Regions from separate parts of the Homo sapiens genome. Here region 1 is linked to region 2. A link means that fine-mapping ties the variant in region 2 to the expression of a gene that starts in the linked region. Tissue or cell type: whole blood. Region 2 holds a variant in brackets; the other region holds the start of a gene. All regions are shown on one strand. Distances are from middle to middle.

What was found. PIP is the estimated chance that this variant, and not a neighbour inherited with it, causes the effect.
Region 1: it holds the start of LDHD, and the variant in region 2 is fine-mapped to the expression of LDHD in whole blood (INTERVAL, PIP above 0.99).

What each region holds. Positions count from the first base shown.
Region 1 is chr16:75,113,560-75,121,664 of GRCh38, forward strand. It overlaps LDHD (lactate dehydrogenase D), which reads right to left and starts at 3,221. Exons shown (of 11, transcript NM_194436.3): 1 at 3,090-3,221; 2 at 1,989-2,101; 3 at 1,639-1,780; 4 at 1,268-1,409; 5 at 967-1,126; 6 at 407-606; 7 at 183-311; 8 at 1-103. The coding sequence starts at 3,161. It also overlaps a transcript of ZFP1 not described here. RefSeq lists an enhancer at 2,452-2,746.
Region 2 is chr16:75,052,868-75,060,972 of GRCh38, forward strand. The region is part of intron 1 of ZNRF1 (zinc and ring finger 1); the gene reads left to right. Among named protein-coding and RNA genes, the nearest start is that of ZNRF1, 58 kb to the left of the region's middle. The variant C/T (reference allele first, on the strand shown) is at 4,313.

The DNA.
Region 1 (8,105 bases), 61 kb after region 2:
GCTGCGTACCAGGCATTGTGCCGTGCTGTCCAAAGCCGGCTGCGCTCCTCGGCCTCCTTGGCCCAGGAGAAGTCAGAGGCTCCGTTCTGCTGGACTATCTCCTCTGCAGTTGGGGAAGGGGGGCTGACACCGGGCCGCCACTGAGGCAGCCCACCCTGCTGCCCCACTCCACCCCAGCATACCTGTGCGCTGCAGCTGCTCCTCCAGTGCCTGCTGGGAGCCATGGAACTCCAGGAAGAGTGTGGGCGCCACTAAGCAATTCAGCTTGCTGTACCTGTTGCAGGCATCCATCATGACTTCATCCAGGAACTCTGGATCCAGGGAGATGGCAGGCCAGGTGAGGCCTGGCCTTCCCAGGGGGCCTCTTCCAGGGAGCCCACCCTGACTGCCCCCATCCTCAGCTCACCAATGCGGGCTACGGGCACTGCAGCCTGGAGGATGTGTACAGTGCTGTCCACAGCAGCCTGGACACTGGGGAACGCACACGTGGCGGCCACTGTGGCCTCAGGGGCAGGGTGCAGGCGCAGGGTGGTGGCTGTGATGAGGCCCAGCGTCCCCTCGGAGCCCACGAAGAGCCCCGTGAGGTTGTAGCCGGCTGCACTCTTCCTACGTCCCAGGGACACACAAGGTGAGTACCAGGCTGTGTGATGAGGGATTTCTGGCCAGAAGCCGAAGCTGGAACCCAAGACACCGACCCCAGGCACTGAGGTCTGGGCTGGCCTCCCTCGGGCCCAGTTTCCCTGGCCCAGTGCTTTCTGCTCCACAAAGCCAGTCGGCCTCAGGCAGGGAGAGCAAACCCTGGTCCCATCCACTTTGGCCCAGCTGACAGGGCTTCAGAGCCTGAGGAAGCCTAGCCTGCCAAACCAGGGGGCCGCCAGGAGGTGCTTTTCACAGCCCGGTCTCTGCAGGGCAGCCCGCCAGCAGTGCCCAGGGCCAGAGCCCGGGCCCCCCGCAGAGGGCGCTCACCGGAAATGCCGGCCTCGGCCCGCCGTGTGCAGCAGCCGCCCGTCGGGCAGCACCACCTCCAGGTTGAGCACGTTGTCCCGCATGGTGCCGTAGCGGACCGCGTTGGTCCCCGACGCCCCGGTGGCCGCCATGCCACAGAGAGAGGCGTCCGCGCCTGGGTCTGGAGGGCGGCGTACAGAAGGCAGCCTCAGGGACCGGAGGTCCTTTCCCTCGGGCTGGGGGAGGAAGGTCCCCTGAACCCCAGACACAGCCCTGCTCCCACGGTGCCCTCAGGGTCCCAGGAAAGGTTCGCGAGTCCTACCCACGGGAAACCAGAGGCCGCTGTCCCGCAGGTGGGCGTTGAGGGCTTTGCGGGTGACACCTGGCTCCACCACCACAGAGAAGTCCTCCTGGTTCAGCTCCAGGATTCGGTCCATATGCGTCAGGTTAACGCAGACGCCGCCCTGGTTGGGGCAGGTGCTAAGACCACTGCAGACCTGGGTCTCTGACCTGGCCACGTCCCCGGACCACACCCCGCGGGTGTCCCCCCAGCAGCCAGACCAGACCCCCAGAGGCAGGCAGCCCACGGGCGGGAGCAGACCCAAGGTGCCGTGTGTGGCGGGGGAGGCAGCCACAGGTGTGCCAAGGTGTGCTGGGACCATCCTCGGGCCGGGCGAGGGAGCCCCACTGTACCTGCACAGCACAGACGCCACCCTCAAGCCCGGTGCCGGTGCCGAATGGGATGATGGGCACACCTTGGCGATAGCACAGGGCTGCCAGCCGGCTGACCTGCTCCACGTTCTGGGGCCACACCACAGCATCAGGAGGTTCGCACCTAGAACCAGACCCTCAGCGATTTAGCGGGGCGTGACACCCTCTGGTCCCGAGGTGTTGCAGGGCCTGAGGCTACAGCAAGCGAGGGGCAGAGAACATGCCAGAGCACCCCAAAACAGATGAGTGAGGAGGAAGGCAACCCAGCACCCTCTCTCTCAGCTGGGGTTGAATCCAGAAGACAGGGGAGGGGCCCGCGAACCCTCCCATACCTGTGCACCGACTCATCGCGCCCGTGCTGCTCTCGGACCACCGCGGCAGTGGACACGTGGGAGCCGCCCACCACGGCCTTCAGAGCCTCTACGAAGTCCCTGCAGAGCTCTCCCTGCAGGGAAGAAACACACTGCCAGGGTCCCCCGAAAGACACATGGGGCCACAGCCCTGCCCCAGTGTCGGGGGGAGGGCTGGGGGCTGGAGGCTGGAGTGAGCCTCCCCTGCGCCCGCCCCGCTGACAACATCCTTGCCAGGTGGGCCCACTTTAAACAAACCCACTATCCAGAAATGCCTCTTTTCCAAACAGAGCCATTGGGGGTCAAAGTTTCCCCTCAGAAAAAAACGCCACCAGAATTTTTTTAATGTTTTCTTTTTTAATAAAAACAGGGTCTTACTATGTTGCCCAGGATGGTTTCAAACTCCTGGGCTCAAGCGATCCACCTGCCTCGGCCTCCCAAAGTGCTGGGGTTACAGGCGTGAGCCACAGCGCCCAGCCATCCAAATAAAAAACCAGAATTCACTCTCCAAAAAGGCTATCAGCAGGGTTCCTTCAATAGCCAGCCCAGCCTGAGCAACCGAAAAGATCCCTCACTTCCTCCTTTCTCCAGGGCCAACCAAGCACCACCCCAGCCACAGGGAACTCAGAGCTTGATAAGGGAATTAGGGGGAGGAAAAGCTTCCACTGCCCCCTCCCCACTCTACGTTGCCTGGGGCTTCTGGGCCCTTCGTGGGGGGCGGGGCGCGGCGGGGCGGGGGATGTGTTTCTTCCCATTTTACAGATGAGAAATGGAGGCCAAGTTAAGGACAGAGCCTGGCCTGGAACCCAGGCCCTTTCCTTCAGGGCCTTCTTCCACAGGTGTGTTTTATTCCAGGGGCATCCATTTGACTCCCCCAGCCCCACTCATGGTAGCAGTGGGGACTCAGCTGATCTCACTCTACACCCACCCACAGTTGCCACAGGGTAAGCCCAGTGCCCTTTTGCCCAAGGTCAGGTCACTTGGTGCTGGGGCGTCACAGAGCCCAGGAAACTTGGGATCAGAACCCCCTGCTCCCCGCTCCCCACCTCATCCCTCCAGAGGACTTCTCTTCTCTCCCGGTACCTTTGCCTTCTGGGAGCAGTAGCCCCTCCAGGGGAACAGCTCCCAGGTTGCAGACCTGAGCAGTCGGGCCATAGCCAGGCACTGGCCAGAGGGTGTGAGCACTGGGTGGCAGGGTGACCAGTCAGCTACTGTGGCAGCAGCTACTGCTGCTGTCAGCCCATTGGCTAGGCCAGGGGTGGGGCCTGCTTAAGGTGGCACGGGCTTTAAGGTGGCCCTTGCAGATCTTGCAGACATTTTCGTGGGCTCCAGGGACGACACTTCTAAAGGAGAGGCGAGGTTCACTGGACGTTTTGGGAAACTGTAAGGCAAAAATAAAATTCTAAGCCTCCCAACCGACTGAATGGACCTCCCTCTCAGCCCAGGGCATTCCAAAATAAACCTGAAAAATTAATTCAGGCTGTGATGGGAAGAGGTTTAGGACAAGCCTCATTATCCCCCTCCTTCCTTTAGAATTCAGACACAACTGACCAGCATTAACATTAAAACAGAGACCTTAAGGCATTCTGATCTTAAGACACAAAACAGACTCTTTGTAGCAATAAGATACCAAATTCCAACCTGACTCTAGCATCACCTGACAGATAGCAGGCCCTGAAAGAAATCAATGTATTTTACCCCCAAAATATATTCCTCTGATTTTTTTTTTAAATAGCTCCAAAAAGCTGTCTTTTGTGGGGAAAATCTAGAATCTGTAGAGAATCCCCTCCCCTTTCCAGGTTTTTTGTTTTGTTTTGTTTTGTTTTGAGACAGAGTCACTCTGTGGCCCAGGCTGGAGTGCAGTAGCGTGCTGCAACCTCCACCCACTGGGTTCAAGCGATTCTCCTGCCTCAGCCTCCCAAGTAGCTGGGATTACAGGTGCCTGCCACTGTGCCCAGATAATTTTTCTATTTTTAGTAGAGACAGGGTTTCACCATCTTGGCCAGGCTGGTCTTGAACTCCTGACCTCGTGATCCACCTGCCTTGGCCTCCCAAAGTGCTGGGATTACAGGCATGAGCCACCGCGTCCAGCCTCTTTCCAGGTTTTATCCTGATCTAAGGGAGATTTAACTAAGAGTCTGGCACCTTTTAACGCCTTAGACATTTACCATCTATGTTACATAATAAGAACCTTGGGCCGGGTGCAGCGGCTCACATCTGTAATGCCAGCACTTTGGGAGGCCAAAGTGGGAGGATCACGAGGTCAAGAGATAGAGACCCTCTTGGCCAACATGGTGAAACCCCGTTTCTACTAAAAATACAAAAATTAGCTGGGCATGGTGGTACACGCCTGTAGTCTCAGCTACTTGGGAGGCTGAGGCAGGAGAATCGCTTGAACCCAGGAGGTGGAGGTTGCAGTGAGCTGAGATCGCACCACGGCACTCCAGCCTGGCGACAGAGCGAGACTCTGTCTCAAAAAAAAAGAACCTTGGTCTCCACAACTCCTTATCTTAACCCAGATGCTTATTTCTATTGATTCCAGGTTGTCTTTTTTAAAATTTTTTATTTAAAAAAAATTTTGTTGTTGTATACCAAGATTCCAAGTCTTTGGATAATAACTTCTTTCAACCAATTGAAAATCAGAAATTTTTTTTTTTTTTTGAGATGGAGTCTCACTCTGTTGCTCAGGCAGTGGCGTGATCTCAGCTCACTACAACCTCCATCTCCTGGGTTCAAGCTGTTCTCATGCCTCAGCCTCCCAAGTAGCTGGGATTACAGGAGTGCCACCATGCCCAGCTAATTTTTGTATTTTTAATAGAGACAGGGTTTCACCATGTTGGTCCAGGCTGGTCTCGAACTCCTGACCTCAAGTGATCCACCCGCCTTGGCTCCCCAAAATGCTGGGATTACAAGTGTGAGCCACCGTGCCCAGCGCCAATCAGAAAAGTCTTTGAATTCACCTATGACCTGTAAGCTCCTCCCTCAATCAGAAGGAACCAATGCATACCCTGCTTATATTGATTACTGTCTGATGCCTCCCTAAACTGTATAAAACCAGTTGTAACTCAACTGCCTTGGGTACATGTTCTCAGGACCTCCAGGGAATGTGTCACAGGTCATGGTCTTCATGTGAGTGGTGGGAAATCCATACAGGTCTACATAAAACTCAATGCTTGCCTCATCAGAAGAAAGAATTCTACTGAAGAGGTCTGAAAGGGAAATATCTTGAGCCCCCAAAATTACTAAGCTAAAGGGAAAAGTCAAGCTGGGAACTGCTTAAGGCAAACCTGCCTCCCATTCTTTCAAAGTCACCCCTCTGATCACTGAGCTAAATGCATATCTGATTGCCTCCTTTTGAGAGGATAATTAGAAACTCAAAAGAATGCAAACATTTGTCTCTTATCTACCTATGACCGGGAAGCCCCCTCCCTGTCTTTCCAGACCCAAACAATGTTCATCTTACGTATGTTGAGTGACGTCTCAAGTCTCCCCAAAATGTATAAAACTAAATTGTGCTCTGACCACCTTGGGGACATGTCATTGGGATCTCCTGAGGCTGTGTCACACCATCATCATTGGCAAAATAAACTTTCTAAATTAACTGAGACCTTTCTCAGATTTGGGGGGTTCATATTTTGGTAACCACAGAAGAATTCTGACTGGAGGCGCCCCTGACCTTTGACAAAGCTATCAGTGCTTGGTACCAGCTTGAGCTATCTTTATGGCTCAAACCAATAGGACAATTTGCTGAGGCCCGGAAGCACACCCTCCAGAGAATACCTTATCTTTCAAAATCTGGTCAAGATCTAAAGTTCATTTTGTTGTACAACTCCTCTTTTTTTTTTGGAGTTTTACTTGCTTCTAACACAAGGAAGGCAAATTTTTCCTGCTTCCATGTTGATGGAAGGCAGGTAACTCCTTTATGGTGTTTGAGCTCGCAACCAACAGGGAAGATGAGGGTTTTTCCCTGCTTCTAGGATGGTAGAGAGCAGTCTTCAGCCTGAAACCCATCCCTAGGTAAGTAACTGAATTGGGGTTTGTTTTGGCTAAAGTTAAGATTACAACCAGCTGGTCTTAATTTCTCCTTACCACTAGAAAGCTTAGTAATCATATAAATTGTGTGATCATTTGTTTTGCTTAACTGTTTTGTTGTTGTTCATTTCTCTTTTTGTTGTTCTTTCAGTCTTTTTCCCATTGGGTTTGATCAACTCTATCTGACTTGATCAAATACAAAGGAAGTCCCAAATTATGGGGAACAAGGCCTCTGAAGTGGCTAAATTCACACACACACACATACACAAAGGATGATGTGATAGGGGGTGAAAAACAGCCAGCAAAAGGAAAAAAAAAAGGAAAGATTTTTTATTTTGACTACTAAGTGGCTTTAGTTACACAACGAGGCCACCTTTTTGCTAGCCAGGCCAAACTGAAAGAGCAATGGCTGTGCTTCTGAAATAGCAGCAATTTGTCCTAGCTGAAATATGGTAATGAGATTTTAAAAGATTTTTTTAAAGGAGCTCAATGATTAAAAGTCAGCTTAATTAAAAGCTAACATCGAAGATGTGCATGTGTATGTGTGGTGTGTGTGTGTGTGCGCATGTGCGTGTGTGTGTTTGTATTTAAAAGGACTTCATGTTTTTGTTTTTGTTTTTCTCCAAGAATCTTGTCTTTTTTTGAGCGAAAGTTTTTTTCTTCTCAGTTGACTGAATTCTGTTTTCTTCATTTACTTCGGCTGTATCTCCTTTCTCTTGCACCCTCTGCTGCATGAGGGACCTAAAATAGTTTATAATAGCTGGGGTTCCTTAAAGAGAACAGAGAAGGCACCAGGCTCCCTTTAAGGGAGAAACCTGTTTTTTCTTATGCAATCCCCAGAGTGTAAACAGGCAAGTTCGTCTCGTCTCTTCAACTGCTTACTTTTGTATTGTTGTTACCTGTTTGTGGTTTTTTTTTGGGTTTTTTTTTGTTTTTTTTTTTGACTAAAATAGTTATTGCAACAGAGGTTACCCTTGGGTTTTTTTGTTTTTTGTTTTTTGTATTGTTTGTTTGTTTGTTTTGAGTCTGAGTTTCACTCTGTCGCCCAGGCTGGAGTGCAGTGGCGCAATCTCGGCTCACTGCAAGCTCCGCCTCCCGGGTTCACGCCATTCTCCTGCCTCAGCCTCCCAAGTAGCTGGGACTACAAGCGCCACCATGCCCAGCTTGTTTTTTGTTTGTTTGTTTGTTTGTTTGTTTGTTTTGTATTTTTAGTAGAGACGGGTTTCACCGTGTTAGCCAGGATGGTCTCGATCTCCTGACCTCATGATCCGCCCGCCTCAGCCTCCCAAAGTGCTGGGATTACAGGCATAAGCCACTGCACCCAGCCTACCCTTGGGTTTTTAAGGAAGACTATGGTTTAGACACTTAGAAATGTCTTTGTTTAAAAGAAGTTTTTTAAAAAGTGCACTGTAAAAGCATCACGTGTTCTAACCTCATAATAAGTGTCCCTTCTTGGAGACCCAGGATTCAGTGTGGGCTCTGCCCAGAGCTCAGAGATCCACTTAAAAGGTAGTCCCTTTATCTAAATAAAACTAGTCTCCTTATACAATCCTATGATAAATTTCTTTTTTGTTTTTTTTTTTTTGAGACAGAGTCTCGCTGTCACCCAGGTTGGAGTACAGTGGGGTGATCTCTGTACTCCAGAGAGTACAGACATAACTGGGACTACAGGCGCCCACCACCACGCCCAGCTAATTTTTTGTATTTTTAATAGAGACGGGGTTTCGCCGTGTTAGCCAGGATGGTTTCGATCTCCTGACCTTGTGATCCGCCCACCTCGGCCCCCCAAAGTGTTGGGATTACAGGAATGAACCACCACACCCGGCAAATTTCTTTAATTTTATGTTTGATTTGGCATTCATCTTTCATCTCCCTCTGGCACCATCAGACTTTTTCTCTCTGTACCTTATGATGTAAATTTTGCTATTTGATTTTCACCTGAGTTGTTTCCTTTAATATGCAAACATAAGGCTAGTTAGCTGACAACTGCCTAGGGTTGTGAAGCAGGTTATCAATAATCTGAGTGTATCCATAAGATGTACTTCTATCAGCATGCCTAATACGTCT
Region 2 (8,105 bases):
TCTTTTGTGATTTTGCTCTGTGGAACACAAACTTACAGAGTTAAAGCAAGGCTGGCAACCCATGTGAAAATGAGGAGAATCTGAGCCTTTTCATTTGCTGCCACTGGGGACATGATGTGAATCGGCGCCCTCTGACTTAGCTCCATGGGGCCTCTGGATTGGAAGTGAGGGAGGAGCCTCCTGAGCAAATGGACTGAAATTCCTGCCCTAGGTAGGCTGATTGCCTTCCTGAAGCTCTATTTATAGATCGCAGAGGAAATCTAGGGGGCTTTATCTCACTTCCCACCCCACATAATAAAACTGGTTCAGGTGGGTGGCTAGAACCTTAAAGTTAAACATCAATTATCTAAATATACATATAAGGTGGGAATAGAGGGTCAGAAAAGCATTTTTGTTCTCTAACTTGAGGACTCCAGCTAAAAACATAAAAATCGCCAATGGCTGGGTGCAGTGGCTCATGCCTGTAATCCCAGCACTTTGGGAGGCCAAGGCAGGTGGATCACCTGAGGTCAGGAGTTCAAGACTAGCCTGGCCAACATGGTGAAACCCTGTCTCTACTAAAAATACAAAAATTAGCCAGGCCTGGTGGCACACGCCTATAGTCCCAGCTACTCAAGAGACTGAGGCAGGAGAATCGCTTGAACCTGGGAGGCGGAGGTTGCGGTGAGCCGAGATCACACCATTGCACTCCAGCCTTCTGTGACAGAGCGAGACTCCATCTCAAAAAAAAAAAAAAAAAAAAAAATCACCAATGTCCAGTGGCTGTCACTATCAGGGGCTATTTGTGAGCTTCCCTAATGCCCATGATAGATGTGCCCCATGCTGTAAAACACATCCACCTATTAAATAAGCAGAGTGGACTCACATAAGTAGTAATTTCCTCACAAGCTCAGAAAATGTCTTTTCAGTTTGTACTTTGGTGTGTACACATCACATTTTGGAGAAAGTCTAGACTTTAGAAAAGAGCCTTTAGGGTATTCCCAGGTTGTTCCTGGGCTCCTGTACTCCCTGTTCAGGTCACCTCTGCTGGCTTTGGCTCATTGTGGCCACGCAAGTTCTTTGTTACATATTCCCTTTGGTGATCAGAGTCTTCCCAAGCCATGGTCAAAACTTTACTTTTCGTATGAACTATGTGTCTTCCCCTTCAGGGAATAGGACTGATGCCATTTGAGATTATTTCTTCCTTCCTTGTTGACAATTCCCTTTGTACTCCCCCAAGGCCCTAAGCAAGGACCCTTAGTTTCCTCTGGTTTCGTGGTTCCTGTGAAAAAGGCAGAAGCCCATGTGGAAAATCCTCATCCTGCTGTGTTTCAACAAGCAAAGTGCATTTTGTCTTTCAGAGTGGGAAGGACCTTAACTGTGTTGACCAGAAGTGCAGTTCCTGGCTTCAGCCATTTTGCTTTGGAGAAGGAAAATAAATGCAGTGACCTTTGTTGTGAGGGTAGGGTACTCTTGTTCTAAAAGTCCATTTGTGGTGAGGCGTGGCCCTGCTGGGAGAAGCTGATGCCACTTTGCCTCCCTGGCACCCTGCCAGTTCTGTCTGCTTTGTTGACTTTGGTGGCTCAAGGGACAAGCCAGGCACTGGCTCATCTTTTCCTGCCTGATTCTCTGGGCAGATTTCTCCATAGGGTCTGCAGGGAAGTGGGGGAAAGCTGGGTATGGTCAGAGTGGAGGTCACTATGTGGGCTTCTCAGTCCTCATGCTGGTCTGTGTCAGGTGCCTTTAATTCAGGGCCTAAGGAACCATTGCTTTTTAGCCTAAGCAGCAATTTAATAATTTAGCAATCAGGTAATACTGGCACTTTGTTCTCCCCTGGCTGTTTTCTCAAGCTAAGTTCTGTGTTAGCATTTCTTGATTTCTCCCCTGATACTAATCCTCCTGGGAGATTGGCCTTACCTATTCACGTGGAGCGTGGCTTCTCTAGGAATGTGGGAATTGCTCCATGGCAATGGTGCTTTGGCCTTCACTGCCCACATCACTGGGACCATCCCAGCCCTTCTTGTCTCTAGCCTTTCTTACAGGTCAAGTCCAAACAGGAGGATCTGACTCTCTTCTTGGTCTTTTCTCCTGTCTAGCTGTCTTGTTTTAGAGCAGAAATTAAAGGAGCAGGGTGTCCTAATGAAACTGTTACTGTGATCATATCAGCTCTCTAGAACAAATTCAGAAAGACGGCCCTTTGTAACAGGCAGACTGGGTGGGCAGGCGTTCGTTTGTAAAGAGATGGCTTTCCTCTCCCAACAAGCAGGGCCAGGCATCACCCCATGCTGCATTGATGCAGGGAGTGAATTGAGAAGTGTGGGAACGTCATTTGGACTCTTTCCATTGCTCCCATTTTAATGCTTTCTAAAGGAACTGTTTCTCAGGTTTAAATAAAGTGGCAACACTGGCTTACTAGAACTTATTTATTTTTATTTATTTATTTTTGAGGCGGAGTCTCGCTGTATCACCCAGGCTTACTAGAATTTAGAACCACTCCTTCATTTGTGTGTATCCATTCTGTCTTTCCAGTCCCCAATGTATGATGTAGAATCTCACCTTCTTGCAGCAGAACCAGTGCCCTAAGTTATTGGATGTCTTTGTTGTGAAGAACTTGGTTCCAGCACTTTCCATGCTACCAGCCCAGGAGTAGGTCGTGTTCTGTCCTCAAACATTGGAGTCTTGGGTAGACTGCAGGCCTGATGACAGGCATTGCTCGTCTCCCTATGAGAGGCCTTTTCCTTCCTTTGCCCACAGAGCATTGTGGACACACCAGCTGCCTGCCTGGAAGAAGGAGCTCCTTCCTACCAGCCTGTGGAGTCTCATTTCTGCTGGAAAGGCATAAGAATGCTGCAGACTTGACCTCGGGACCCTACCACGCTTTCCAAGTGACCTTAGAGATTAAAGATCTTTGATTTTACAGAAGAAAAACAGCATAAACACTCAGTCTTGTGGGGGTAGTTATTGCCTTTCCTACTAAAAGTAGCATTACCTGGGAAAGCTGGCCTTGTCTCCAACTGGGCACATCCTTGAAGGACCAAGAGGGTCTTCTAAGAAAACCATCAATGTTTCTGTTCCAGTATTTCCTCGATAAAGACATTTGCCAACCAGTGATCCAAGCTATCCCTCAGCTGCTCAGAATTTACCTCAATTCCTTTGCTGAGCAGGCATGTTGTATTTCTATGTAATGGGGCATATTTGCCTTTGGAGAAAATTCTGAGGACTGTAATCATTTTAGCCATTGATAGCTGATGGTCAGTTCTGCAGGTGCCTCTCCCCATATCACATTAAGACTCCTTTTTATATATAGTTTGAAGTTTAAGGATCCATAAGGATGAATTGGAATCTTCTTCTTAAGAGGTATGGGCTTAAGAAAGTTGAACTGTAAAAGGATCAGTTTCATTCTATTCAGCCCAGCGTGTAAGCCTAGTGACTGTGTGTTCATTCACATTTTCATCAGGCAGCTCTGGCCAGAGGCCCTGAAAGGGTTGAGTATGGTGGAAGATTCCATCGTTTTCAATGACAGTACTGCTCATAAGTTCTAGTGGTTCTGAAAAGAATAGGTTTAAAAGTGAGGTATAAGATTATGTATGATGTTGATGTTATGTGTGAGGTTGATGTTTACCTTTCTTGGTTGACAAATCTGGTATTGGTCCTCTGACAAGAATGGAAACTGTATGTTTGGACAAAAATACTGAAGATACAGATACTGAAGTTCACAAGTATCATGATGTGAGAGGATAGATCATTTTCATTTCAAGGACTTGGTTCATGGAAAAACCTTTTTTTTTTTTATTCCTTTGAGACAGTTTTCCTCTTGTCACCCAGGCTGGAGTGCAATGTCATGATCTCAGCTCACTGCAACCTCTACCTTCTGGGTTCAAGTGATTCTCTTGCCTCAGCCTCCCTAGTAGCTGGGATTACAGGTGTGTGCCACCATGCTTGGCTAATTTTTGTATTTTTAGTAGAGATGGGGTAACTTAAGAAGTTACCATGTTGGCCAGGCTGGTTTTGAACTCCTGACCTCATGTGATCCACCCGCCTTGGCCTCCCAAAGTGCTGGGATTACAGGCCTGAGCCACTGCGCCTGGTCAGGAAAAGACTTTTTAATGCCACTAGATTCCTCTCCTGATGCATTCAGGCCTGTGGCATCCTCTAGTTCAGTTTCTTGGGTAGTTGGTATTACAGATTTAGAGTCTTGTTTTGATGGACATTTCTCCATACAGAGTACCGTAATGCTGTTGCATTTTCTTTCAGATTTGTTCAGAATCTCCTGGGGGTTTCTCTCATTCAGAATCAGGTACTACCGGGGCATCTTGGAATACCCCCACCCTGC[C/T]GTCCTGCTGCATGTCCCTGCTCCTTTGACTCCATTGTAGTTCACGTGCTTGTTTGTTGCTTATTCATGCCAGATTTCTAATATAAATGGAATTTAGTAAGGTTATTCTAATACAAATACAGATGGTGACAGTTTTGTTTTCTTCTTTGCTCTGCTAGAGTCACCAGGTTTGATCAACACTTGGAGTTTTTTTTAATATATTGATTTGGTCCTGGATAAAGAGGTGCCAGATTAAGAAAAGCTCCTTAAGAAGCAATTTATTCCTTAGCCAGGGGCTTGGCCTGTTTGGTGTAGCAGAGTGACCAGATTCATTCTGGTCTTACAGGTGCTATCTTGACCGCTTTCATTTTTATAAATAAGGGATTCATCTTCCCTGGCCTCAGGATCGTCATAACAGCTGCTTTGCAAGAAATTCGATGGAATTGGTTCTTTCCTTCTGCCTTGGAAACTGCTATGTATTTTTCATTTTTATTTTTTTGAGAGTCTCACTCTGTCACCCCAGCTGGAGCGCAGTGGCACAACCTCAGCTTACTGCAACTTCCGTCTCCCGGGTTCAAGTGATTCTCTTGCCTCAGCCTCCTGAGTAGAGTAGCTGGGATTACAGGTGTGCACTACCACACCCAGCTAATTATTGTATTTTTAGTAGAGATGGGATTTTACCATGTTGGCCAGGTTGGTCGTGAACTCTTGACCTTAGGTGATCCACCTGCCTCAGCCTCCCAAAGTGCTGGGGTTTACAGGCGTGAGCCACCACGCCCACCCAGAAATTGCTGTTTATACATGGTGGGCTGTGTGTGGAGAAAAGTAGGGACCACTGCTGTTGTAAACCTTCTCAACAAATATGAGGCCTGAGAGAGAACCGCATTCCATCCTTTCTGGTCCTCTAAATACACTGATACTTGACCTGCCCTTTTTCCTTTCCTTTTCTTTTTTTTTTTTTTTTAAATATTTTATGTTATTTTATTATTTTAGAGACGGGGGGGTGGTCTCACTATGTTGTCCAGGCTGATCTCGAACTCCTGGTCCCATGCAGTCCTCCCACCTCAGCCTGCCTGGGACTACAAGCATGTGCCACAATGGACGCTCCTTTGCTTTCTGTGCGGGAGCGTTTAGATCTGAGGAGCGCTGTGGCTGGTCCCTTGAGGTGAGCTGTTCTCATCCATTATATGCAGCTTTTTCTACTTTGGCTTTCAGTAGCTTTGCTTGCAAGGAGCACTCTAAGAATAACACAATAAATGTTAGACCCAAGGATTATTTCCCCAAACCTGCTGGCCCAACACTGTTGCAGTCAGCAGGAACTAAGGAGAATAACAGAGTAGCCAAGGCCTCTCAAAAGAATGAGATAAATTGTTAAAGATGGGACAACTACTCTAGACCAGAAATGACTGCCATAGTGGGGATCAGTTAAAGAGGAATCATAGCCCTACTGGACAACAGGGCTCCCAGGACTTGGGCAGAAAGTAAGTAGCAAACCTCATCACGCTGCTTTGGAAAAGGGATTTGGGTTGAGTTTGGTAACCTGATGACAGACTAGGTGGAGGGTAGATGGCAGTGGGTGTTGGTACTCATCTTGCTCTGCTGGTTGGACTCAGGAGAGTTGTTCCACATCCTCGTGGTTCCTTTCCGTTTGTCCTTTAAATAAATCGGTCTCATCCCCCAGGAGATGCGCTGGGCTTTCTGTGTGCCTTAGTTGAGAGTGTTTGACCACCTTGTGTTTTCCTTGGACTGTTGATGAGCTGCTGCCAAATGTTACCCTTCCAAGGGGCTGCTACCCGCCAGGCTTTTCATACTTGAATATAAACAACTAGATACTGGCCTTGATCCCCAGCTGTGTGAGCATCTGGGAGCAGTGAAGGAAGCCTCAGAATGTGTCAGGCCTGCCTGCTCTAGGAAGAGCCAGAGGAACTGCCAACCATCCGGACTGTTTTGAGAGTAGGTGTCAGGACTTTGCAGCTACCCTTTGCCCTTGTAGGCTTGGCCCCAGATATCTTGGATTTTCTTTTTTCTTTTCTTTTCTTTTCCTTTCCTTCCTTCTTTCCTTCTTTCTTTCTTTTTTTTTTTTTTTCTTTTTTTTTTTTTTTTTGTGGAGAAAGAGTCTCACTCTGTCCCCCAGGCTGGAGTGCAATGGCGCAATTTTGGCTCACTGCAACCTCCACCTCCTCCGTTCAAGCGATTCTCCTGCCTCAGCCTCCCAAGTAGCTGGGACTACAGGCATGCACCACCACGCCTGGCTAAGTTTTGTATTTTTTGTAGAGACAGGGTTTCACCATGTTAGCCAGGCTGGATATCTTGGATTTTCAAAAAGAACAGCATAATGAATTCAGATAAAGCATGAGAAATCTCAGATGCAGTGGGGGTATCAGAGAAAACTACCCATCTTCTTACTTTTGTTTGTGACGAAATGGCTCAGATCTCGTAGGAACCGGTTTTTCAGCCATCAAAAAGACTCCCATCTATCTCTTGAAGTTTGTTCTCAGGTCTTATCTGATCCTTCCATTTCTGAATGTGAGCAGAGAAGTGTTTGGAGCCAAAAGTTCGAAGTTTTTACTCTACCTGTAATGTTTGGAAATTGTATAAATCAATTTAAACATGGACTAAAGGTCTTAGGCTGATGGATTTGACCGCTCCTTTCTCTCCTTCAGGCCGGCTTTGTTTCATTTGACCCTTGAAGTTACATTCTTTATGTTCCTTCATCTCATTTCTCTCTTCACTCCTTTACAAAGTCTAGGGGATCAGACAGACAATTTGACTAGGATTTTATGACTAGACCTCGTTTGATTATTTGGTACAGCCCAGGATATTAGGAGCTTCTCTCAGTTGTAGAAACCCAGGAGCACTTGGACTTGCCGTTACAAACCAAGGTGAAGTGACAGTTTTCTTTTCTTTTTTTTTTGAGGCGAGTCTCACTCTCTTGCCCAGGCTGGAGTGCAGTGACACGATCTCGGCTCACTGCAACCTCCGCCTCACAGGTTCAAGTGATTCTCCTGCCTCAGCCTCCCGAGTAGCTGGAACTACAGGCGCGCATCACCACACCTGGCTAATTTTTGTATTTTTAGTAGAGACAGGGTTTCACCATATTGACCAAGCTGGTCTCAAACTCCTGACGTTGTGATCCGCCCATCTTGCCTCCCAAAGTGCTGGGATTACAGGCATGAGCCATTGCACCCGGCCGACAGTTTTCTAAGTTAGGGTAGTCCCACCTTGCCTGTGGCAGGAGCAGGGAAATATATCCTATCTCTACATTTGAGCACAATGACCATGAAATCCACCCTAGCATACCAGACTCAGAAAATCTTTTTTTTTTTTTTTTTTTTTTTTGAGACAGTTTCATTCTGTCGCCCAGGCTTGGAGTGCAGTGGTGTGATCTCGGCTCACTGCAACCTCCGCCTCCCAGGTTCAAGCGATTCTCCTGCCTCCCTCCCAAGTAGCTGGTATTACAGGCACACACCACCCTGCCTTGCTAATTTTTGTATTTTTAGTAGAGATGGGGTTTTGCCATGTTGGCCAGGCTGGTCTTGAGCTCCTTGACCTCAAGTGATCCACTTGCCTCGGCCTCCCAAAGTGCTGAGATTACAGGCGTGAGCCACCGCGCCCGGCCAGAAACTTGGATTTTAATCTTGGCCGCAGCTTTGATTTTGATGGTAGAATTCCAAGGTCATCTCTATTTCTCCCCTGTACTATGAGGGTACTGGAGTTTTGTAACTTCGTGAGGAGGAGGAGGCTAAGAAAATAGGGAAGGAAGTTCTCAAGAAGGCTGTGCAGTGGTGACTCCCCTTCAGGGGACACTAACGAA